3 separate regions of the Homo sapiens genome follow, and regions 1 and 2 are each linked to region 3. Evidence: fine-mapped expression QTL. A gene starts in region 3. Each other region holds a variant in brackets. All regions are shown on one strand. Distances are from middle to middle. Region 1 overlaps MCC (MCC regulator of Wnt signaling pathway). Region 2 overlaps MCC (MCC regulator of Wnt signaling pathway). Region 3 holds the start of DCP2 (decapping mRNA 2).

The links. PIP is the estimated chance that this variant, and not a neighbour inherited with it, causes the effect.
Region 1: its variant is fine-mapped to the expression of DCP2 in whole blood (INTERVAL, PIP above 0.99).
Region 2: its variant is fine-mapped to the expression of DCP2 in whole blood (TOPMed, PIP above 0.99). The same link has a PIP of 0.9 or more in Th17 cells and blood mononuclear cells.

What each region holds. Positions count from the first base shown.
Region 1 is chr5:113,035,958-113,043,957 of GRCh38, reverse strand. MCC (MCC regulator of Wnt signaling pathway) reads left to right here. Exons shown (of 19, transcript NM_001085377.2): 17 at 328-428. Among named protein-coding and RNA genes, the nearest start is that of DCP2, 63 kb to the right of the region's middle. RefSeq lists an enhancer at 1-252. The variant G/A (reference allele first, on the strand shown) is at 3,469.
Region 2 is chr5:113,025,957-113,033,956 of GRCh38, reverse strand. MCC (MCC regulator of Wnt signaling pathway) reads left to right here. Exons shown (of 19, transcript NM_001085377.2): 18 at 4,901-5,023; 19 at 6,475-8,000. The coding sequence ends at 6,655. Among named protein-coding and RNA genes, the nearest start is that of DCP2, 53 kb to the right of the region's middle. The variant G/T (reference allele first, on the strand shown) is at 3,105.
Region 3 is chr5:112,973,304-112,981,613 of GRCh38, reverse strand. It overlaps DCP2 (decapping mRNA 2), which reads right to left and starts at 4,816. Exons shown (of 11, transcript NM_152624.6): 1 at 4,628-4,816. The coding sequence starts at 4,680. It overlaps LOC105379126 (a long non-coding RNA gene), which reads left to right and starts at 6,829. Exons shown (of 2, transcript XR_948679.3): 1 at 6,829-6,916. RefSeq lists enhancers at 1-172, 4,366-4,475, 4,586-4,635, 4,646-4,735, 4,806-4,855 and 3 more.

The DNA of each region.
Region 1 (8,000 bases), 62 kb before region 3:
TCCTGCCTCAGAGAGTATTTGTGGAGATTAAATGATTGAATGCATATGGCATGCTTAGACCAGTGCCTGGCATCAGCGGCTGCTCAGAGCATACTGGGTGTCATCCCCACCGCACTGGCCAGTCTGCAAAAGGAGCCAGCGGTCTGGGAGCAGAGGGGCCTCTTTGGCTTGCTGCCAGGCTTTCCCCTTTGGCATGACCTGAGGGCGCCACCCGGTGCCCACACTGCTGCCATCACTGCACGAGCCACCTACCGCGCTCTGCTGCAGGCTTCCAGGGTGCTGCCGGCTTGGATTCAGGCCTAACTGGAATGTGTTTGCTGTTGTCAGGAGTGTGCTGATGCTGCCTCCCCAGCTCTGTCCCTAGCCGAACTCAGGACAACGTGCAGCGAGAATGAGCTGGCTGCGGAGTTCACCAACGCCATTCGTCGGTAAGCACCCTTTCCCCACCCCAGCTGGTGTTTATCCTGGGCATGGAGACTTTGTTCTGAGTTCTCTTTGCTGCTCCCAAAAGGAGAAGGTGCTGATGTGTTCCACTTTACCCATGTCTTGGAAGCCAGAAATGGAGAAGGCCTGTTGGTGCCAGGCCTTTCAAAACAGTGAGAAGAGAGAGCACTTAAGAGACAGCACTTAGGCAGTCATTGATTCATCAGTGAATAGGAAAATTCCTCTTCCTTTCCTTTTCTGTTATGTTGTTGCATTGGCTAGAAACTTCCGGGACAGTGTTAACTAGTGAGGTGAAAACAGGCACTCTTACCTTGTTTCCAACTTCAGCAGGAATACTTTCCTTCAGCGTTGGTAGTGTGAAAAAGCTTTGTGTATTTATTTAGTTCTGGGAAATTTTCCTCTATTATTTCAGTGTTTCTTTCCCCTCACCGCCCCCCAGTTCTTTATCTCCTCCTGCAAGGAGAAACAGATGCTGATTCATCTAGCTCTGTCTTCCGTATCTCCACTTTTCATACCTTCTTTCCATCACTGCTTTTTCCCCGGGTGCTACAGCAGCATTGTCCAGCAGAAATGTAATGTGAACCACATATGTACTTGTAAATTTTCTAGTAGCCACATTAAAAAGAACAAAGACAGCTGAAATTCCCTTTAATAACATTTTATTTAACATAATATGTCTACATTATTTTAACATATAGTCAATATTTTCTCAAACTATTAATGAAATTTTTTTTTAACCAAGTTTTCAAAACCTGGTATGTATTTTACACCTCAGCATATCTCAAATTCAGACATTTCAAGTTCTCAAGAGCCACATATGGTTGTGGCTGCCCTATCAGATAGTTGCAGTTCTGGAGAGACAGATTTTTTGGCTAAATTTTCCAGCTCACTAATTTATTCTTTAGTTAGGTTCATTGTGATGTTTGACCTATATGTTGAGTTATTTTGGTGATTAAATCTGTCATCTCTTTTTTAGTGATATGCATCTCTTTGAGGATTTTTATAATGCTTAAATTTTTTTTTTTTTTTTTTTTTTTTTGAGAGAGGGTCTCATTCTGTTGCCCAGGCTGGAGTGCAGTGACACAATCACAGCTCACTGCAGCCTCAATCTCCTGGGCTCAAGTGATCCTCCCACCCCAGCCTCCCAAGTAGCTAGGACCACAGGTGCATGCCCCCACACCTGGCTAATTTTTTTTTTTTTTTTTTTTGAGACAGGGTCTCCCTACGTTGCCCAGGCTGGTCTCAAACTCCTGGGCTCAAGTGATCTTCCCATCTTGGCCTCCCAAAATGTTGGGATTACAGGCATGCAGTGCCCTGCCCGGCCCTTAAATTCCTTCATCTTTTTTGTCTGCTGTATTAATTCTGTTTCTTCACATGTAATTCTTTTCATAGTTGAGTTTTGTGACTCTTTCTTGGTGTTTGCTTTCTTTAAATATTCAGCGGTTCTTGTTTGTGTGTTCATTCTTGTATTTTAAATTCCTAGGTCACCTGTTCGAGAGGTTTTGTTTTTGTTTTTTGAGACAGAGTCTCGCTCTGTCGCCCAGGCTGGAGTGCAGTGGTGCGATCTCGGCTCACTGCAATCTCGGTCTCCCAGGTTCAAACAATTCTCCTGCCTCAGCCTCCCAAGTTAGCTGGCACTACAGGCACACGCCACCACACCTGGCTAATTTTTTGTATTTTTAGTAGAGATGGGATTTCACCATGTTGGCCAGGCTGGTCTTGAACTCCTGACCTCATGTGATCCAACCGCCTTGGCCTCACAGTGTGCTCTGATTACAGGCATGAGCCACTGCACCCGGCCATCCCATTTGAGAGTCCTGCTTCTACTTATTACAGTCTGCCACCCAGAAAATGTAGCCAGGTCCTTCAAAGTGCTGTCAGCTGGGTCATATCAGAAGCTGTCTCCTGGGCTTTCTGTGTCTCCTGGCTAATAACAGCCCTCTAGTCTGCGTATCTGACCCAAGCATTTGGTCCCCTCCTGTTCTGGTAGCCAACACCTCTGGTTGGAGCACCTCTGAATCCCCTTCTTCCTTTTGCAGAATATTTTTCTGCATTCATTTTGCATTGTGGTTTTCTCTTCAGGAAGAAGAAAACATCTGCCTTTCATTTTTTATGATTGAGCATGATTTCTGATATACAAAGAGCACTCCTTTCTAAGATGCTCAGGGGTTTTAAAAAATGTCTTTCCTGCCATTTCTGGGGATTTAGGGTTGGAGGGGAAGGGTACAGTGTATTTTCAGTCAGCTCACTTGATCCAGCGGGCCTGTTTATAGGATGGCCTCCAAGCTGATGGTGGATGGAAGGTTGCCTTGTGGGGAACTTCACTACCTTCCTGATTTATTGTCACTTTTTGTCTTTCCTTCCAAGTTGTAATAGCTCTGTTTGTACTTTGCCAGAGCCTCTGGCCGTGCAGTTAAATGGCAGTTGCTCTGCTTGGGGCGGGAAGAGAAAAGCTGCGCAGAAAAATGCCCTCAACAAATCCTAATGACTTAACTGTGCCAGAAACACGGGATGGAAATCCCACTCGCTATTTCCAGTGGGAGCCATTTGGATATTGTATCTGTAAGCTAAGCCCTTAAGTTTTTCAAATTCCCCAAACCTCAGAGGCCTTTGCTGGCACAAGGAAGATGCAGATTGTGCTGACTAAACATAAAGAGACTTCATTTGTTCTGTCAGTCACAATGGATTTCCAATAACCAGCCTTAAGTTGGTTAGCATGGATTTCTAATCAAGACCCAGGTGGATGGAGCCAAGAACAAACTTACAGAGGTAAAGGAAAAAGGAAAATAACATAATGATACTGTAAATATAGCTTAGAAACTGGGGTCATCACTTCATGAGGGGATACAATATACACACCTCAGGGCTGCAGTTTGGGTTTGTATTATATACCTTGATGAAATGATTCCTGAGGTTTTTATTTTAAAAAATCAAATGGAAACGAACACCTTTTTTGAAGGTATTAAATCACAGCCGAGCTTATGGTTGAGGTCAGCTGGGGGAATCTTACCAGCATTTTCAGCA[G/A]TATTTCTCCCTTGAAAAAAGGATGGTGCCAGACACCAAAACTGTAGGCGCAGGCATCCAGACTGAAAAGATCAGGTGTCGCTAAGGGAAGAGGAAGAGGCTAAGCCATGGGCTGTCCTTAAGGAGAACCAGCCATCCCAGGGAAGGTGCCCTGTGACATTTCAGTCACTGGTTCTGGGTCATGACACTGTCCCCAACCCAACCTCCCCTTACCTGGCCAGCCCTTGTCACTCAGCCCTGGCTCTCTCAGTGTATCTTCTCCTAACTTTCTTCTGTTTGGAACAAAACCAAGGCTACATGCCACCCCGCCTTTACTGTATGTATAACTCCCATCTGGTCTGATTTCGTTCCCCCTACTTCGGTGAACATTTATTGCAGTTTGTTGGCTGTGGTATTGCCATAAAACCCCATCTGGATGACCAGGTTTCCAGTCTGGCACACGAGATGTTTTCTTAACAGGGTATTTTGTTTTCTCTCTTGTCCATCCAGCCTGTGTGCTGTAAAAACCTTCTCCATCTCAGATCTGTCTCTCACCCTTGGTCCTAGTAAAATTTGACTGATCTTTCCACCAAGTAAGTGATCTATAAAAAGGCAGCTAAATAAGGGAATTTTCAGAAATGACTCCTTTTTTGTACTCACATGGTGTTTGTGCAGCCCGCCCTCGGGACCCAAGCACAGCTGAGAGGAGCAGACTAGTTCATCTCCGTCATATTCTTGGGAGGCAGCCGGGAGCAGGTGCTGCTCTCCATGTGATCCTGGGGTGGGTTGGGGGGGGGGGCGCGGAGTGGGACGGCAAGGCTGAGTGATCTCTCAAGGTCACACAGTGAGGCAGTGGGGAAGTCTGCATGTTTCTACATTCTCTATGGGGACCCCTTGTGCCCCACATGTGCTGGCAGCATTGGGCTTGCTTGCCGATGAGTGAGCTGAGCCCACTCGTTTATCTGAAGACTACCTGCTGTGTGGCTGGTCTGGGCAGTGAGAAACCTCTATGCCTCCAGTAAACAGCCATGTCTTAGTCTGTCAGTGCGAAAGGCAAATGAGGTGCCATGGCGGGAGGCGGACTTCCTTAAACACACAGAGCTGTGAAGCAATGGCATATGTCAGCCTAAGTCATGCTGATAAAAAGGTAAGGATCTGAGTGAGCCAGGTGCTGTTGCATACACCTGGAGTTCCAGCTACTGGGGAGGCCAAGGCAGGAGCATCCCTGGAGGCCAGTTCAAATCCAGCCTGGGCAACATAGCGAGATCTCGTCTTTAAAAAATAAATAAGTAAAAAATATCTTTTTAAAGTAAGGATCTGTGCTTCCTCAGTGCTGGGAGGCAGGAAGTAGGTGCGCTGCTCCTCACCATGATACATCACCTGAGCCATGGTGAGGAGCAGAGCATGGTGCTGCCTCACAGGCACTCGCCTTTCACTCTACCCAGGAGCAGGGTGGGGCGAGCCTCACATACTACCTGCAGGAGTCAGCGCCCTGCCCTCCAGGAGGCTGCGGTCATTTAGTCACCGACCATCCAGGGGCTGTGCCCAGCCCTCCAGGGAACTGGAATATGCCATCTGTGTCTGCGTGTTTGCCAGATGGTTCTGTAAAATGCCACGTTAAGGCAATCGACAAATCACAGTGGCCGTTCTGTCCAGGGACAGGATGCCCCTGACTCATCCACCAGAAGAGGGCTTCCTTTCCCCTCTCTGCTGAATAAGAAGTAGGCAAGCTGCCACTGCTGGAAGACAGGGTTGTGTGCCAGAGCCCTGTAAGGATATATCCAGTGGCAGGAGGGCCTTGTCTGGTCAGTGTGATCGATCACACCTGCCGTGAGACTGCTCTTCCTCTTCTGCGCCTCTGGGGCTTCAGTCTTGCATCTGCTTTTGTCCTGGCCCCACCCAATGCCATTCCCCAAACATTCACATCAGGTGACTTACAGCTATCTGTAAAATGGATCCGGATGTTCCCATCCTCCACCTCCCAGCAGAAATGACACCCTCTCCCACTTCTTTTTTGGTTCCTAGCGCCATGAATTTCCTTCTCCCATGGAACATTTCATTGCTCATTTCTTAATATGCCTGGTTCTACCCCCAACTCCCCTCCTTAACCCTCAGTCCCCACACAGAAAGAGAGTCCTTTTAGGGCCAGGGATTGTGGTTTACTCAGCCAAGTACATGACTCCAACTCTCATGTCTTCAGCTGTTCCTTCTAAATGGTCCCTAAATTATCTCAACCTCATGCCCACTGGACATCTCCACCCAAATATGCTAAAGCCTCAAAACAGCACATCCAATACAATTCTGTTTCTTCCTGCCCTTTGATGAATTCCTATTTATGTTAAAAATCCCCTTCTCCTAATGATCCAGGATTATAACTTGTAAGTCTCCCCTCCCTACCTCTCGTCAGCAGGTCATAATTCCTTAAAATCCCTTCCATTCCTTTCCATCGCACTGACCCTCAGAACCCAGAGAGTAGTGTCCTAATGGGTCATTCTGTAGTTTGATTCTGCCGCCAGAATACCTTAAAACACACTTCGGATTAGGGTGCTCTGCATAAGCACCTTCAGTGCCTTGGCACTCAAGATTGTCCGTAGGTCCCTAACTTAACTTCCTAGCCCATATTTCAAATGTTTCCCCATGCTTGATCTGTAGTCCAGCCCCTCTGGACAATTCATCTTTCCAAGAGCACACCCTTTGCTTTATCCCTGATTCTCCCTCATCCTTTCCAATCAGAATGCTTACCATCTTGAAGCTTCCTTCAGTCACCTCCATCATGTATCTTCCCGCTATTCTCTGAGTCTTCTCTGGTACTTTTTTGAGACAGGGTCTCACTCTGTCATCCAGGCCGGAGTATAGTGGCACAATCACAGCTCTGTGCAGACTCAACCTCCCCAGGCTCAAGCAGTCCTCCCACCTAAGCCTCCCAAGTAGCTTGGACTACAGGTGCACACCACCACGCCTGGCTAATTTTTGTATTTTTAGTAGAGACAGGATTTCACCATGTTGCCCAGGCTGATCTCAAATTCCTAGGCTCAACTGATCCGCCCGCCTCAACCTCACAAAGTGCTGGGATTACGGGCATGAGCCACTGTGCCCGGCCCTGACTACTCTTTACCCATCAGTGGCCCACAGAGCCCTTGACTGTTACCAGTGCCTTCGAAAAAGCCAGCGAGACTCCTCAGAGTTCAAATCCATGTCCAAGTTCATACACCATCCACCCAACTGTAGAAAACTTCCAGACTTGTAGGAACCAACATTTGTCCCTGAATGGAAAAAGGATGACCCTAGTTGACCCCTATTTCAGCAGCTGTGGATGAATACTGTTTTTGAGCCACACAAAGAGTGGGATAAAATGAAAAGGGAAGTGGGTGGGGTGCTTTTTAAAAGGGAGCCCCCACTGAACAAATAAGCAGCAGAATCTTCACTGGTTCATGAGGAGGACCATTATTGTAAAAGGTGCTGTTTTATTTAAACTTGCTGATTCTTCATATTTGGTTGATGTATAAAAGCAATCAAGCAATGGAAGTTGTGCTTAGAATTCCATAAAAGCACATGGGTCTGCAGGACATTAATGGAATACAAAGTGTGCCTGTGGCTTCATTAGCACGCAAATAAACTGCTGAGCCCCAGAGCCAAGTGCCTAGAAGCACAGAGGGTGAAGACTGAGGCTCACTCAAGGGATGGAGGGGTTGTTGCTTGAGTAATTGAGATTTATTTTACTTTTTTGCCATCCCTCCAGCATCCCCAAAGCTCAAAGAGAAGAAGGCCTTGCCTGGGACCTCATAAAGGCAGAGTGGTAGAGGGCACTGGAACACCCAGCAGCCACTGGCAAGGCCTGTGAAAACTCCAGATGGATTTCCTGGACAAGAAACATGTTCATAGCAAAGTCTGGGCAAAAAAAAGTTAGACTGCTGTTGTCCTTGTGCTGCTACTCCTGGCAAAACACAGCCACCGACATACCTGCAGAACCTCATTATCTGGGGACACTTGAGCCTTAGTTCTGCAGGGCTGCACTGTTAAGCAGAGGTCTTGTTTATCTTGCACTCTACTGTATTCCCTTTGTGAATCACAGGCTACTACCCAGTGAGATGCGTAAGGGCACAGGCTCTGCAGACAGAATCCCAGGTGGGAGTCCCAGTTCTGCAGGGACTAATCTTAAGTTCCTCATCTATAGGCCAGGCGCGGTGGCTCACGCCTGTAATCCTAGTACTTTCGGAGGCCAAGGCAGGTGGATCACCTGAAATTAGGAATTCAAGACTGGCCTGGCCAACATGGTGAAACCCTGTCCCTACTAAAAATACAAAAATGAGCTGGGCATGGTGACAGGTGCCTATAATCCCAGCTACTCAGGAGGCTGAGGCAGGAGAATCACTTGAACCCTAGGGGTTGGAGGTTGTGTTGAGCCCAAGATCGCACCACTGCACTTCAGACCGGGCGAAAGAGTGAGACTCCATCTCAAAAAAAAAAAAAAAAAAAAAAAAAAAAAAAAAAAAAAAAAGTTCCTCATCCTTAAAAATGAGAATCATGATAGTACTGACTTCCAAGGTTATGTG
Region 2 (8,000 bases), 52 kb before region 3:
TGTGATTTGTGCCACTGTACTCCAGCCTGGATGACAGATCAAGACCCTGTCTCTTAAAAGTCCCACCCTGGCTCTGCGGTTAGAGTCATACGACCTTTTATCACCAGGAATAAGAAGCCCAAAAGCTGAAGTGGGAAGACGTGGAACTGAAATCCATGTGTGTACTGGGGGACTTCAGTTGTCACAGTCATTACAATCCAGCATTGTTTTTGCTTGATGCTATGGGGTATATTTGTGAGTGCCAATACTACTGGGCATAAAAAAGGAATGGATTATGTATTTCTGGCCATTCCAGGAAACACTGTATGAATACATTACTATTGAAGGTGCATATGGAACGTGTAGTGTTGAATTTTTGCTTTCTCATTTGTGTGAAGCCAAGAAAGCTTGTTTTGGCCTAACTTATGTACCCAAACCATATAAAATCTTAACGAAAGGCTAAGCAAATTTAAATTAGAAGGAGAAAGGAACAAGAATGGTTGAGGTTTCAATGTGACTTGAATTAGTAAGCTATGTTTCTTTGCATTTTCCATGTCATCGTTTGAAAATCTGAGGAAAACTGTAGACTTGATAAAGTGAGCCCCGTGCTTGCAATTTTGCATATAAATTCAGAAAGTCAGTTCCAGGAGTAACTGAAGCTCATCCTCAGGTCCAGGTGAGGAACTCTTCTGCCTTACGCCAGTCCCTCAAGCTTGCCTGATGACAAGAGTCAGCTGGGGCCCTTGTTAAACTGCAATTCCTGGGTCTCAACCGAAACCTACTTAGTCAGAAGCCAGGGAAAATATCTGGTAATGCTGTTACTGGAAAATATTACCGATCCAGACCCCAAGAGAGGGTTCTTGGATCTTGTGCAAGAAAGAATTCAGGGCAAGCCCACAGAGTAAAATGAAAGCAAGTTTATTAGGAAAGTAAAGGAAAAGAATGGCTACTCCATAGAGCAGCCTTGGGGGCTGCTGGTTGCCCATTTTTATGGTTACTTCTTGATAATATGCTAAACAAAGGGTGGATTATTCATACCTCCCCTTTTTAGACGTTATAGGGTAACTTCCTGATGTTGCCATGGCATTTGTAAACTGTTGTGGCGCTGGTGAGAGTGTAGCAGTGAGGACGATTAGAGGTCATTCTTGTGGCCGTCTTGGGTTTGCTGTTTTGGCTGGCTTCTTTACTGCAATGTTTTATCAGCAAGGTCTTTATGACCTGTATTTTGTGCTGACCTCCTATCTCATCCTGTGACTTAGAATGCCTTAACCATCTGGGAATGCAGCCCAGTAGGTCTTAGCCTCACTTTTACCTAACTCCTATTTAAGATGGAGTTGCTCTGGTTCACATGCCTCTGACAGCATTAAACAATTGGTCTAGAGCAGCACTGTCCACTGGTGATATAATATGATCCACAAATGCAAGGCATGTATGTAATTTTAAATTTTCTAGTAGTCCCATGAAAAAAGTAGAGACACACATGAAATTAATTTTAATAACAATGTAACCCAGTATGTCCAAAATATCTCAACATGTAATCAGTATCCTTTTTTTTTTTTTTTTTTTTTTGATACAGAGTTTCATTCTTGTTTCCCAGGTTGGAGCGCAGTGGCGCGATCTCGGCTTACTGCAACCTCCACCTCCCAGGTTCAAGCGATTCTCCTGCCTCAGGCTCCCAAGTAGCTGAGATTACAGGCAAGCGCCACCACACCCAGCTAATTTTGTATTTAGTAGAGACAGGGTTTCTCCATGTTGGTCAGGCTGGTCTTGAACTCCCGACATCAGGTGATCCGCCAGCCCCGGCCTACCAAAGTGCTGGGATTACAGGCGTGAGCCACAGCGCCCGGCCCCTGTAATCAGTATTTTTTAAACTAAATAGATATTTTACATTTTTTTGTGTTGTCATGAAAACAGATCAACCAACCCAAATTTTAGGTTTAAGTTTACAGTTTGGCCTCGTCTTTGCATCTTTAAATAAATGAGCATCATAGTTCTTTCCTGGGGTTTCTCCCAGCGGTTCACTCCCATTCCCTTCTGAAGGCCAGGCAGTTCTAAGCTCCCAGCAATGGCTACTCCCCACTCCTGCGCCACAACCCTAAGCTGGGGTTGGCCTGGGTCTGAGAGACTCTCTCCTGCCCTTCTGGGGTTCTATCCTCCTTTGGAGCCTGCCAGATCCAGAAAGTTCCCTCTGGTCCCCTGAGGGCCTGGGTGCTGGGGAAGGAAGCGTTTTGTCTTGTGGAAGGGCTGGGATTTCCAGTCTCCCTGTTCACTGAGTGTGGATAGGAGTGGGGGAGGGAGGGGATTTGACTGCTCTAGGTAGCATCCCAGAGTTTTTTGTTGTGAATTTCTTATTGAGTTTGTGGTTACATTTTTAACTCTTCAGTATTTTTTTTCCTTTTACACTATTAATCAACATTAGAATGAAAGATAAAGGGCTCTAAATGGTAATAAAATGTAGGGCAAAAAACCCTTCCCTGCTGTTTTTAGCTGGAGGGAAGCAGGAGTCCCTGGCTTCCCTCCGCTGGAGGAGGACTGCTGGGAAGGCCGAGGAGGTGTTGGGGGGCGGGTGGGGAGGAAAGGAGCCCCCCTCCTGCAACACCATCCTCACTGCTGGTAGGAAATGCTGCCACTCTCCAATGCCGGGAGGAAATGCAGCCAGATCCGAGATGTCCTGGAGGCTGCTAGGGCCCAGGAAAAACACACGCTCCTTCCAGCTTAGCAGAGGCGGGTAGGAGGATTTACTGAAAAATGAGTTCTGGGCTGAGGGCTGGTTGCTAGACTTCCCTTAAAGATCCTGCCCCTTCCATCCTCTCTCCCAAAAGCAGGCCTGGATTTTACGTTGTAATTCCTTTCTTCATTGATCAGTTTGGAGAGCTTGACTTACCCTCATAGTAGCTAAAGGCAGAAATGTAAAAGATTAGATATATGAAAAGCTAGGAAAGGAGAACCAGGGTCTGAACAGTTTGGGCAGCAGAAAGGAGCCTTCTACCCCGACGTCACATTCCCATGCCGTTCCTACATGACTCTAACTCGCACTTTACAGAAAATATACAAAATTGTAAAAATATCTGGCAATGCAAAAGTGAGTGAAGTAGAAAATGAAAGCCTCCCATCAACCCCCTTCA[G/T]GAGTTAAGCACTGTTGAGTTTGTGTTTCACCTTCTAGTCTTATTACAGTGTCAGATATTCACACTCAGCTTTTCAGTTTTTACAAAAATGGCATCTTTAGAACTCACCCTTTTTGCTTAATGTATCAGATATCCTCCCATGCCAGTGCATGGCCATCTGATTTTTTTGTTTGTTTTGAGATGGTCTCACTCCGTCACCCAAGCTGGAGTGCAGTGGCAGGATCATGGCTCACTGGTCTTGACCTCCTGGACTCAAGCGATCCTCCCAACTTAGCCTCCTGAGTAGCATGGACTACAGGCATGACCCACCATATCTGGCTAAGTTTTATATTTTTTTGTAGAGATGGGGTTTCACCATGTTGCCCAGGCTGGTCTTCAATTTCTGAGCTCAAGTAATCCACATTCCTTGGCCTCCTAAAGTGCTGAGATTACAGGCATGAGTCACTGCCCCCAGCCCTCCATCTGCATTTTAAAAATATTTTTCAAGCAGAGCATTTCGGTAGCATGGGTAGGCCGTGATTAACCAGTTCCCTGCTTGTCTCCCTTTATTAGGCATTATTGTAACCAATGCCTAAGTGAATCCAAATATAAGTGATGTATCTTTAGGAACCTGTGCTCCTGATATCTCTGTAAAATCAATTCCTAGAAGTGAAGTTGCTTAGTCAAGGGGCATGTTCATTTATTATTTTGCTAGATCCTACCCAACTGTCTTATAAATTAATCATGCAAATTTACATTCTACATACAGTGAGTCCTTTTTAAACGAATTCCTTCCCTAAATCCTGGTTTCTTAATATGCCCAAAGAATCAAATACATTACCTTCAGTAAGTTGTTCTAAAGCTGTTTTAACAGTCACTAGAAGCTGTCACCCAGGCACGGTGCTCAGCACTGGGGGTGCATTGGGGAATCAAACCAAGTAAAGTCCTTGCCACTCTAGAACCCAACATGACCATGGGGGAGCGTCATGGCTCCAGCACGTAATACGGTGACATAGTGCTGAGTGTGCTACTAAGTGGAGTAACACTGTGCATGTGATAGAAGGATCTTGGAAGGGAGTCAGAGTAGTCGAGAAGGCTTTGATTAGTGTTTCCCTGCTGGGTCTTGTGGGAATTAGAGGAAGGCAATGAGCTGACTGGATACTGGAAACCTCCCTGAACTGACTCTAATTAGCTTGGGTTACCAAAGTAGTAGAGGATCCACAGAACTTGAAGCTGCTTTGCCTGTGGAGGGCACGTAGTCAAAAGTGCAAATGTAATTTCATGGGAAATAAGGACCCTTACAATGAAGAGAGTATCATATCTACTCCCTCTACCAATTTTTTGGTTTTTGGCAAGGTGGGATCATGTTGGTCTCAATGAGTGGGGACCTGTTCAAGGTAGGTTGCTAAACCTGAGTGGTTCAGGAGATACTTAGGACACCTGAAAAAGAAGGGGATGGAGACAGACGGGGGTTTGTGGTCAGGCCGCACTCATTGCTGAGGATCTGGTATGCCAATAGTAGAAAGGAACTTCTAGATTAGCTAGAAGACTAGAAACAGAAATTCCTGTCTTGTTTTCTTTGACACATAAGATCTTTAAAAAGCCCTTGTCATTGAAGAAATGGGTTTAAATCTGCATTTGAGAATGAATTCATTCAGGTGACAGTAGCGCTGTTGGGCCCTTTAGTATCTTTTCTCTCCCTTGCCTTTAGGCTTTGCAAGCTAAACCTTCCTCTTTCTGTCACCACTTCCCAGGGAGTGGGCACCTCCAGCATCATCTCAAACTACTCCTGGCATATTTTGTCTCCTTTAATATAGAGAAAAGAAGTTGAAGGCCAGAGTTCAAGAGCTGGTGAGTGCCTTGGAGAGACTCACCAAGAGCAGTGAAATCCGACATCAGCAATCTGCAGAGTTCGTGAATGATCTAAAGCGGGCCAACAGGTAAAAATCTCCCTATACCCAGCCCCCACCGCCCTCCACCTGTGGTACTTGGACTGACACCCTGCATGTAGACACAGCACCAGGGATGGACATTTCCCTAACTCTTAAGAACTAACTCTAGAAAGTGGGTGAGTCCCTACCTGGCTCTCTAAGAGCCTGGTCTTCCTTAGAGTGGCATCTCCCAAGATGGTCTGTGGAAACTAAGAAATGCTCAGTAACAACATCCTTTGGCCAAATGTAGCATACTGTGGTATATGCCTCCTGGTATTATGTATCTTAAATGTTCTGAGAAGTCATATAATAAAAAATCTGTTTAAGCCAGTATTTTCCAAACAAAATTAGCCATGGAATTTATTTGAGCAACACAATATCCACTGGAATACTTCAGGAAATACTGCTCTAAGACTGGGCTCAGGACTCTTCTCTATAAAAAACGGAGGACCTCAGAGAGCTTTTGTTCCTGTAAGTTGTATTTATTGATACTTCTCATGTTAGAACTAAAACCAAGATAAATTATTTAAAGTTTTTATTATTTCATTTACAAAAAAAAAAATGGCATTTTTATGAAAAACTATTTTCCAAGAAATAATTAGAAAAGTGGCACTGGTCTTACAATTCTGCAAATCTTTAATGTCTGGCTTAATAGAAGACAGCTAGGTTCTCACATTTGCTTCTGTAGTCAACATTATGTGGATGTATATTGAGAACACCTGGCATCATCCAGCTCTATAGTTGGAAATAAAAGCTCAAGACCTCACAGACCTCCTGAATGGGTTTTACAAATCTCTGGGGTGAGTCCTCAGACTATCTGGGAGAACTGCAGCTGTAAGGGTAATGACTGTACATGGAATGGACCTACCTGGGCTCACTGTATACCCTACCACCAGGCTCTGGTGGGAACAGTTCAAAGGCCTGTATATTCCATGTTTGGCTTTGCAGCATTGGCTTATGGCCTAATTTAATATTCCGAGTCCCACCAGCCCAAAGCATAAAGGGAAGGTGGAACAAGAACAACCTCTCTGCTCTCGTCCCAGGTATGGTCACTTTGATTGCAGTGCCTTAGGAGTACTCTCCTGTAAGATACACTTGACTATGTTGCAAGCAACCATGGAGCAACAAATAGACCCACTATTTGTATTTATCCGTTTTGGACTGGGCCAATTTGGATTGCTGGTTTGACTCTTAGAACCCCTTCTAATATGTGAGAGTGACCAGCCTCTAGCAATCCGGCTGGATTCATCAGGGTTAAGCCAGTAGGTGACTGGCCGTTGAGTGTTGACATCCTGGTGCTGTCCCTCCTCTGACCACTAGATTTCAGATTCTTACCGAAGAGGATGAGTGATCTTTCTTCAGAGCAGTGCTCACTAGATCTGGTTATCCAGTGGACAGGATGGTGTCACGATGCTACTTAGGATGAATCTTAATACCAATTTCCCTTCATTCCCACCTAGCAACCTGGTGGCTGCCTATGAGAAAGCAAAGAAAAAGCATCAAAACAAACTGAAGAAGTTAGAGTCGCAGATGATGGCCATGGTGGAGAGACATGAGACCCAAGTGAGGATGCTCAAGCAAAGAATAGCTCTGCTAGAGGAGGAGAACTCCAGGCCACACACCAATGAAACTTCGCTTTAATCAGCACTCACGCACCGGAGTTCTGCCCATGGGAAGTAAACTGCAGCAGGCCACTGGGGACAGAAGGGCCCATGTACTTGTTGGGAGGAGGAGGAAAGGGAAGGCTGGCAGGTAGGTCGGCACTTGGACAATGGAGTGCCCCAACTCAACCCTTGGGGCGACTGGCCATGGTGACATTGTGGACTGTATCCAGAGGTGCCCGCTCTTCCCTCCTGGGCCCACAACAGCGTGTAAACACATGTTCTGTGCCTGCTCAGCAGAGCCTCGTTTCTGCTTTCAGCACTCACTCTCCCCCTCCTCTTCTGGTCTGGCGGCTGTGCATCAGTGGGATCCCAGACATTTGTTTCTGTAAGATTTTCCATTGTATCCTCTTTTTGGTAGATGCTGGGCTCATCTTCTAGAATCTCGTTTCTCCTCTTTCCTCCTGCTTCATGGGAAAACAGACCTGTGTGTGCCTCCAGCATTTAAAAGGACTGCTGATTTGTTTACTACAGCAAGGCTTTGGTTTCCAAGTCCCGGGTCTCAACTTTAAGATAGAGGCGGCCATAAGAGGTGATCTCTGGGAGTTATAGGTCATGGGAAGAGCGTAGACAGGTGTTACTTACAGTCCCAGATACACTAAAGTTACAAACAGACCACCACCAGGACTGTGCCTGAACAATTTTGTATTGAGAGAATAAAAACTTCCTTCAATCTTCATTTTGGAGGCAGGGCTGGGAAGGGAGCGCTCTCTTGATTCTGGGATTTCTCCCTCTCAGTGGAGCCTTATTAATATCCAAGACTTAGAGCTGGGAATCTTTTTGATACCTGTAGTGGAACTAAAATTCTGTCAGGGGTTTCTTCAAGAGCTGAGAAACATTATTAGCACTTCCCGCCCCAGGGCACTACATAATTGCTGTTCTGCTGAATCAAATCTCTTCCACATGGGTGCATTTGTAGCTCTGGACCTGTCTCTACCTAAGGACAAGACACTGAGGAGATACTGAACATTTTGCAAAACTTATCACGCCTACTTAAGAGTGCTGTGTAACCCCCAGTTCAAGACTTAGCTCCTGTTGTCATGACGGGGACAGAGTGAGGGAATGGTAGTTAAGGCTTCTTTTTTGCCCCCAGATACATGGTGATGGTTAGCATATGGTGCTTAAAAGGTTAAATTTCAAGCAAAATGCTTACAGGGCTAGGCAGTACCAAAGTAACTGAATTATTTCAGGAAGGTCTTCAATCTTAAAACAAATTCATTATTCTTTTTCAGTTTTACCTCTTCTCTCTCAGTTCTACACTGATACACTTGAAGGACCATTTACTGTTTTTTTCTGTAGCACCAGAGAATCCATCCAAAGTTCCC
Region 3 (8,310 bases):
CCCGATGGAAAAGAAACTAGCCGCTGAAGACTTGCCTCTACTGTAAAAACTACATATCTATTTACACTGTATCATTATTGTTCAGCTTTTACAATCAACAAATAGCACAAAATATAACAGACGTAGATTTACAAAATAGAATATAAATATTATCAACCCTAATTTTTTTCAAGTTAATCTGGATAGAAGCCGAGGGAATGGGCAAGAAAAAATGAGGCACTAATCATCTCACCATATCAGAGACTCAAGAAATACTGTAAGTTCGTAAAACAAATATAATTTTAAGTATATTAAAGTCACAAAGGGGCCAGCATGGTAGTTCACACCTGTAATCTCAACACTTTGGGAGGTTGAGGCAGGAGGATTGCTTGAGGCTACAAGTACGTTTGAGACCAGGCTGGGCAAAGATCCCATCTCTACCAAAAAAAAATGTATTTAATACCTGGGCATGGTGGTACATGCCTATAGTCCTAGCTACTCAGGAGGCTGAGCCAAGTGGATAGCTTGAGTCCAGGAGTTGGAAGTTGCAGTGAGCTATGATCATGCCTGGGCAATGGTGCAAGACCCTGTCTCTAAAAAAAAAATCATAAAGTCACAAAGGTAAACAATGGAACAATTTAAAATACTGATAGAGACATACTGGAAGTAAGATGGGGGCAATAGTGGGTGTGGTAAACTGAACTCTCATCTAGTATCTACGAAATTGAACCAAATCCTCAATTCAATATAGAAAGTTGATAAAACAAGAAACTGGCACAAGTATATTTTAAAATATGAGGTATCCACCAGAAGAACTCAAAACAAAACAAGTAAAAGTCAATGCCTCAACAGGAATAGAAAAGGGTAGGGAAAGAAACTAAGACTGTTGCCTGTCATTTATAAATCTGTCTGTACTCTAATTTTCAAAACCATGTACATGATTACATATTTTTAATAGTAAAAAGTTGACTTAAGTTTATAAGAGCTGATGTACGAAAATTAAACATTTAATGCGTTCATTCTGTGAATGCTTTTGATCTGTTTTAAAGTTCAAAAGTACGTGTACATATGTGTATGGACGTGTATATAGTAATAGCTGAAATAAAATGCTTTCCATTACAATTTGTTACGGAAAAAACTGCATCACACGAAATGTTATTTTCTCAGTGTTCCTACAAACAGGACATTAGCACAAGGATTGCAATTAGTAGAAAAATGTTCCGGTTGAATTCAACACTAACACGGCTAGCTGAAGATGAGCACAAATTATTTAATTAACCTACGCTATCACCAAAATAGCAGCAACACTAGTTGCCAGAAAATACCTTTCTTCTTTTAACACTAGTGTGGCCTTACTATACCCAACTCTTAAAAAGGGCTTTAAAAAAATTCTAAGCATTTATTTGAATCAACCAACTTTTCAGTTTCTACTTTAAAAACTTGCTTTTCAATTCTTTAATAAGCTAGTTTAAACAGTACTGAAAAACTCTGTATTTGAGTTTTAATATCAAAAATCATGGTTCATCAAAAACAAGTATCACCATAAAATGCTGCAGATTCACCTTTACACATACATTTTAAATTATAAAGCATTTTTTGTTCACTAGAATATTTTAAGACCAAACTCTTCCCTTCCTCTCCTCTAATTCTACTCCACTCAGAAAGTAACCAGTGTTATCAGTTTGGCGCATATTCTTTCGGCATACGAATACATATACCCCTTCCCCACCCACACACACACTTAAAAATTTGTTTTCACAAAAGGCACCAAGGGACTAAATAAGTATTTCACTCAGTATACTGTGTACATCTTTTCAACACACAAATATTTTCCCTCAGTTTACTGTGTGCTAATTGCCTGAGGAACTTAGAATGGCTGCACAATATTCCAATAAATAGAATGTTACATACTAAAGCATCAGCCTTAGGTTATGAGCAGTCTAAAGGTTACAAAGTCACATTTTGAAAATTTAAGTCTGCTGCTCTCCACATCAAAAGGCAAGATTTAACAGAAACATGTAATTTATCAAAAAACAAAGTAACACAAAAGAAAACTTCCTATATACACTAATAATAAGCAACAGAATTGGGGCAAAAAATGAAGGGAGTAAAAACAAGCACCTAGCTTGAATTCATAAATCAAGACGTACATAAAAGAGAGCAAAGAAGTTCAGAAAAATTAACCTCAAATTAAGCTTTATTTTTACAGAAGTTTACCAAATTCTAAGTGTAAAAAAAAAGTTTTAGTCTACAATGAAAAGCTTGAATCTGTAACATTAAAAATATTTCAATTAATCAAAGCTATAAATATTAACTTGAAAATGGCATTTATTTTAAAATCTGAAGTTTTGAGAAATGTTTATTTGGTTTCATTATTACAGCCAGCCCTAATTTTTAAATATATCATATCCTTATTTATACAGCCAAAAACAGTAACTGCAAAAAGAAATTTCTTGAAAGGAAAAAAATGTTACTCCATTCAAAAATATTTGTTTAACAGCTTAAATACACTCACTGGAAAACCAACTATCTTTAACACTTGACAGGTGCTTAACATATTGTTTACAAAATACAACGTAATTATTTTGTGAATAGGTTCCATACATAAAATCGTTAACAGCTGACATCACTTATTTAAATGATGTAATCCTAGATAATATGCAAATTAACCCCAATACTAGAAGGAAGACTAGCTCTGATGTCTGTAAAATGTTTAAGATTACCACATCTTTTTCTAAATCAACTCTTAACCCTATTAACACACAGCTAATTACTGATCACCTTTCTAAATACTTATCTTCAATTTTTTTCTAACTATAAAATGCATAAAAAATATTGGAAACAAAAAATAAAGATCACAATCTCATAATCCCACTATTGGTTGATGTGCGTCTAGTCATTAACCCACATACACATATCAAATTCAGTTTCTTTTTCCTTTTTTTTTTTTTATTTGGGACAAGAAACTAAATGCCTTTTCAGTGGTTCATTTGAATCTACCATACTTCAAAAATTATAAATCTACCATCACCAAAGAAGTACAGCGCCATTTGTATTAGTTGCAAAATTAGGCTATTTACTTTTCTGTATGTACTTTTGTGAGGTTTAAAACGTTAGGCTTATTACTTCTCCTTGGTATGAGAGAAAAAGCACAGGCACTGGAAAGAAAAAGGAATAGGTGTGAAATCTTGATTTTGTGAATTAGGATGAATGTGACCTTATGTAAATTACAAAGTTCCTGAATCTGTTTGCGCAGATGAAAATGGAAATATACTAACTGCACCTACCAAACACGGCTGACTGAGGATTAAATAAAACAATACATGTAAAGGTAGTGCCTGGTGCACAGTAGAAACTCCAGGCCGGGCGCGATGGCTCACGCCTGTAATCCCAGCACTTTGGGAGGCCGAGGCGGGTGGATCACGAGGTCAGAAGTTCGAGACCAGCACGGCCAAGATGGTGAAATCCCGTCTCTACTAAAAATACAAAAATTAGCCGGGTGTGGTGGCGGGTGCCTGTAATCCCAGCTGCTAGGGAGGCTGAGGCAGAGACTCGTTTGAATCCGGAAGGCAGAGGTTGCAGTGAGCCAAGACCGCACCACTGCACACCAGCCTGGGCAAAAGAAAGAGGCTCCGTCTCAAAAAATAAAAACAAAAAAACAAACAAACAAAAAAAACCCCAAAAAACTCCACAAACACCAGTTCTTTACTTTCCATTAAAAAAAACTGCATGAAGGAGATACAACTACTAAAAGCCTGCCTTTTAAAACATAAACACAGTAACTGTGAACGAAAAGGTGTTATCACTTGTAATCACAATCCACACACACTTGGCGACAACTCCGGGTATCACTGCACTCCAAATTTTACCTTCGGAAAATAAGCATTTTTAAGTATCCTACACGTGTTTGGCTATCTGAAATCAGAGTTGACAAGGGGGAAGAATGCAGAAAATTTCTCATCTGAAGTATACACCCTGAGTTAAAACCCCGCGGTTGAGAATTTCCTTTAAAATAGGATTATTAAGGATAAAAAGAAAAGCAGCGCTACACTTTTTCCCTCTCTCCCCCAAAGACAAGTCCAGGGATGAGAAAAAAAAAGTAATTCCTTACAGGAATTTACAGAGAACGCCACGGACAAATAACACGCAGGCGTCAGAATAAGTCCGAAAATTTGCTCCTTGCGCAGGTCCGCGTACCTGGGATCCTAAGCCTTAAATTACTACCCTGGGGGTCTTCCTTCAGAATCGGGGAATGAGACACAGGGAGGAGGGGGTGCACGGCGTGGAAAAGTCACAGAGGCAGAAAAAACAATGGGAGAGGGAGGCGGCGGCGGCGGCAAAACGCTAAGACCCAGGCTCCGGCGAAGCGGCTACGCCTGCGGGAAAGCAAAATAGTTGAGTAACTTAAAAAATGAGGAAATTCCGGGTGTTCTGCGGGGAAGGACGGAGGGCCTTGAGAAACAGGGAGGCTGCGGCGGAAAGAGGGGCGGTGTCGTCGGAGAGCAGGGTCGACGATGGAAAGCGAGCAGCGGCGGGAGCGGAAAGCGAGGACATGGACGTGGGCGGGGAAGAAGACCCAGAGGCCTCTGGGGGTCCGCGAAACTGAGAAAACCCGACGGGGGCGAAAGGGGGTCGGGTAGCGCGGTACCTGCAGAGATCGTCCAGGACGCTGCCGGGAATCTCCACCCGTTTGGTCTCCATGATGAGGACCCACAGCAGGAACAGTGCATCCCGGCTCCGCGCGGCCGGGGACTGACGGTACGGCACTAGGACTCCGGCTCGCCGGAGAGCTGGCAGCCGAGGAAGCCGCGGCAGAGACGACTCCAACGGAGACGAGAAGGGGAAGGGGCGGGACCCGCTCACTTCCGTCCCGCTCCCTCAGCCTTGGACCCCAAGACTGGGCCAAGGCTCGGGGCGGAGCCCCCGGAGTCACGCCCCTGCTCGCTTGAAAGGCCCAATGGGAAGCTGAAGAATTGGGACTCTAAGCACTCTAAGCCAATGAGACGTTTGTTTATTGGTCTGCTACTTCCAATCCGTCTTCAAGCTGCTCAGTTGCTACTCAGAAAACCAACTTCCCGCCGCCTTTGAGGTGGCTACACGCATGCGCACCATGCCTCCTGCGCGCTTCTGGGAAGTTCAGAGGGGTCGGGGCTTAGGTGTAGACCCCGGACACATATCCGGGACTTTGGCATGTTGTGCAGGACCTCGCGGTGACTGAGCTCTTTCCTCTGCAGGGCCGACCCTGAGAATCCGTACAACACAAGAGTATGCTCGCGATTCCTGTCACCAAGTATCTTGCACTTATCGCAGCCCCCACCAACTCCAGGCCAAGAGCTGTGCCTCTTTCACTACAAACCCTTGGAGAGGGTATCCATTTTGGAGGTGGCTCTCCTCTGTGCTTCCTTAGGCACCTGGTTCCAAACATGAAGACAAGGACTTTATCTCAGTATCTGGCACCTAGCAAAATCTTAGAAAATACTGATTTAAGCTGAACTCTGATCTGTATTCCACCCTCTGCACAAAGCAATCCCCACCTGCTCGTCCTTATTCATTCCTCGTCTTGCTTAATGGAGACCAATCCATTTGGGATCTTTGGAGAAACTAGATCCATCTGTTCTTTTTCCTCTTACATCAGACCCACAGGCCCACACACACCTGCTCCGTCACAAGTTTAGTCTGTTCTACCATTTAATCTCCCATCTTTTGTCTAAATTTGTCACATGCCACTGTGTACTTCAGTTTTGCATCATTTCTCCATACTACAGTGAGAGCTGCCTAACCACTGACTCTGCCTCCATTCTTGGCCTGTGCAACTGCCTACATTTTGTTTTGTTTTACTCAGATAGGAACAAGTTATCTTTTCAGTTTCTGCTGTATGATCAAGCCCAAGTTCCTTTGGCATAAGAGGCCCGTCACCATCTATTTTGCTCCCGTTTTCCATCTTTTTTTTCCCCTCTTTCTTGGAGAATTCCTCAAATTTATCTTCCTGACAACTACAGAGTTTTTACTTATTTAGAGTTCTGTTTTGTTCTTCAAATGCCCCTTTCTTGTGGTGTCACATTCTTGCTTTGTATATTTTATTTTATCCTTCTGAGGATATTAATAATAGATTTTGACGTTTTCTTCTCCCTGAGTAGTCTTATTCCTCTCAGCTGCTTTTTGCTATTATCTTGATCTCATCTATCCTATTAGAAGCCTCTGTAGTCCTTGACTATTCACTCACACTTAAGAGTAAGGCCTTAACCTGGAGTCAAGTGCCTTGAAAGCTAATTGGAAGCTCTCACCTTGTAGATGGTACTTGTTTCCTGAGAGCTTCACTGTAGGATGATCTGGCTGAGCTGTTGGTTGGAAACACATGGTATCAGTATCTGTACGTAATTCTTTCTGCTGATGAAATTCCCTAAAGAGAAAATGCTTCCAGGCACAGCTTCATGTATTCTGGGAGTCCAGTACAGAAGCACAGGCTGCAGTATTCCATTTGCTTTATTCAGTACTCCCAGCACAGTCCAAGTCTTATTTTAGATTTCCTAAGAAGCAGGCACTGAGACAAGATTTTGAGTGCAGATAGCCTGTGAGGGAGGTGATCTTGGGAAACATTGGTAGGAGAGCAGGAAAGTGAGTCAAGGAGGGGAGGAAAGCCAAAAGGTTTATTATCAAGGAAATTAGCACTGTGGTTAACTGGAGCTTACTGTCACTGGAGAACTCTGGTGGCCAGTATAAAACATATACCTCAGAGTTATCCCACTCAAGGGGTGAGGGAGATGGGGATTTATATACCAACTTCCTTCATTGGTTGAAGGCAGCTCCTGGGGTCTGCACTCTAGCCTGCTACATGGGCAGCAAGATGGGCTCTGGTGGCCAGAAAAAGTCCTACGGCAAAGAAATGCAGATACTAGCAGTTGGACCTCCAGCCAGTGTAGTGGATGGATTGGTAAAGGTAAGAGTGAGCCCCTTCAGTTCTATTTTGCTGGGTGTGCATTCTACCTGTTCTGACTGAATGTCTTTTCTCTGACTGGGAGGCACCATAGTGGTTTTCTTAGTTGTCTCACTTAGAGCTCAAGTCTAGTTTTTAGAGTATTCTAAATGATGGCAGTGGAACAACAGTTCAAGGCAAAGTGGTGCTCACCCACATGGGCCAATGGTATATTAATAGAAACAAGCAGGTTACCAAGCACTTGCTGAAGCACCTGGAGGAATTCTTCTTACTAGCTTTCTAGTCTCCCAGTTTAGGGGCAGCTATACAACCCCTTTTGGGCTCTTAGAGGCCAGGAAGTCCCCAAACTCTCACATGGTGTTAAACCAATCTGCCTTATTAAGAGTTTCTGAGATGTCTGTGGTCCAAGATATTATCTTGCCCATGCCCCATCCCTCCACTGCCTCCTCACACACAGATTTCCAGGAGCTGGACTAGTGCAACCCTTATAGCAGCCCCCCAAGCCATGACTTCCAAAGAAGCCAACTGTATGGTAGAGGCACCTGACAGCAGTAACGTAAGCAGACCCAGGGGAATGACCCTGTGTGGCAGACAACCTGAATGAGTTTGCAGTTACAACCAAGATTCATTCCTTATCTATGAGGAACATCTGAGCCCTGTGGAATGCAGGCTGCACAGGAGGGCTAGGCCCTTTGTTTTGGGCTAAATGAAAGTTGTCAGGTGGAAGCTGTTAGGGAGAGGGTGCAAAATGAAAATGCTATATAAACTGCATGCTTTCTGCAGGTGATGTTGTTCTCATGTCCAGCTCACCTCTAGTGGACCGCTCTGTATGCAAGTTCCTCTCAATAAACCATATGCCTCATTTGCTGGCTCTGGGTCTCTTCTTCAGCCTCTTGAACCTAGTGCCATCCCTGTTAAAGTGAATAGGGACACCAAGGCCTCAATTCCATCTAATTGTTCACAGGACCCAGCTGAGAATGACAAAGGGGAGCTTAGAGTTGAGGTAACAGGAGAACAGGAGATGCTAGGGTTCTTAAATTATAATACTGATTTGATTTTTAAATAATTAGGTTGATTAAAACCTTTATAGTTTTAAAATATGCTATTTCATTTAGTCTTTTTTTTGGAACAAGATCCCACTCTGTTGCCCAGGCTGGAGTGCAGTGGCATAGCTCACTCCTGGGCTCAGTCTCCCACCTCACCCTCCCAAGTAGCTAGGAATACAAGTGCGCACCACCAGGCCTGGCTAATTATTTTTTTAAAAACTTTGTAGAGACAGGGGTCTCACTAGGTTGCCTATGTTAGTCCTAAACTCCTGGCCTCAAGCAATCCTCCTTCCTCAACTTCCCAAAGCACTGGGATTACAGGCATGAGCCACCGTGCCTGGCCTCATTTAG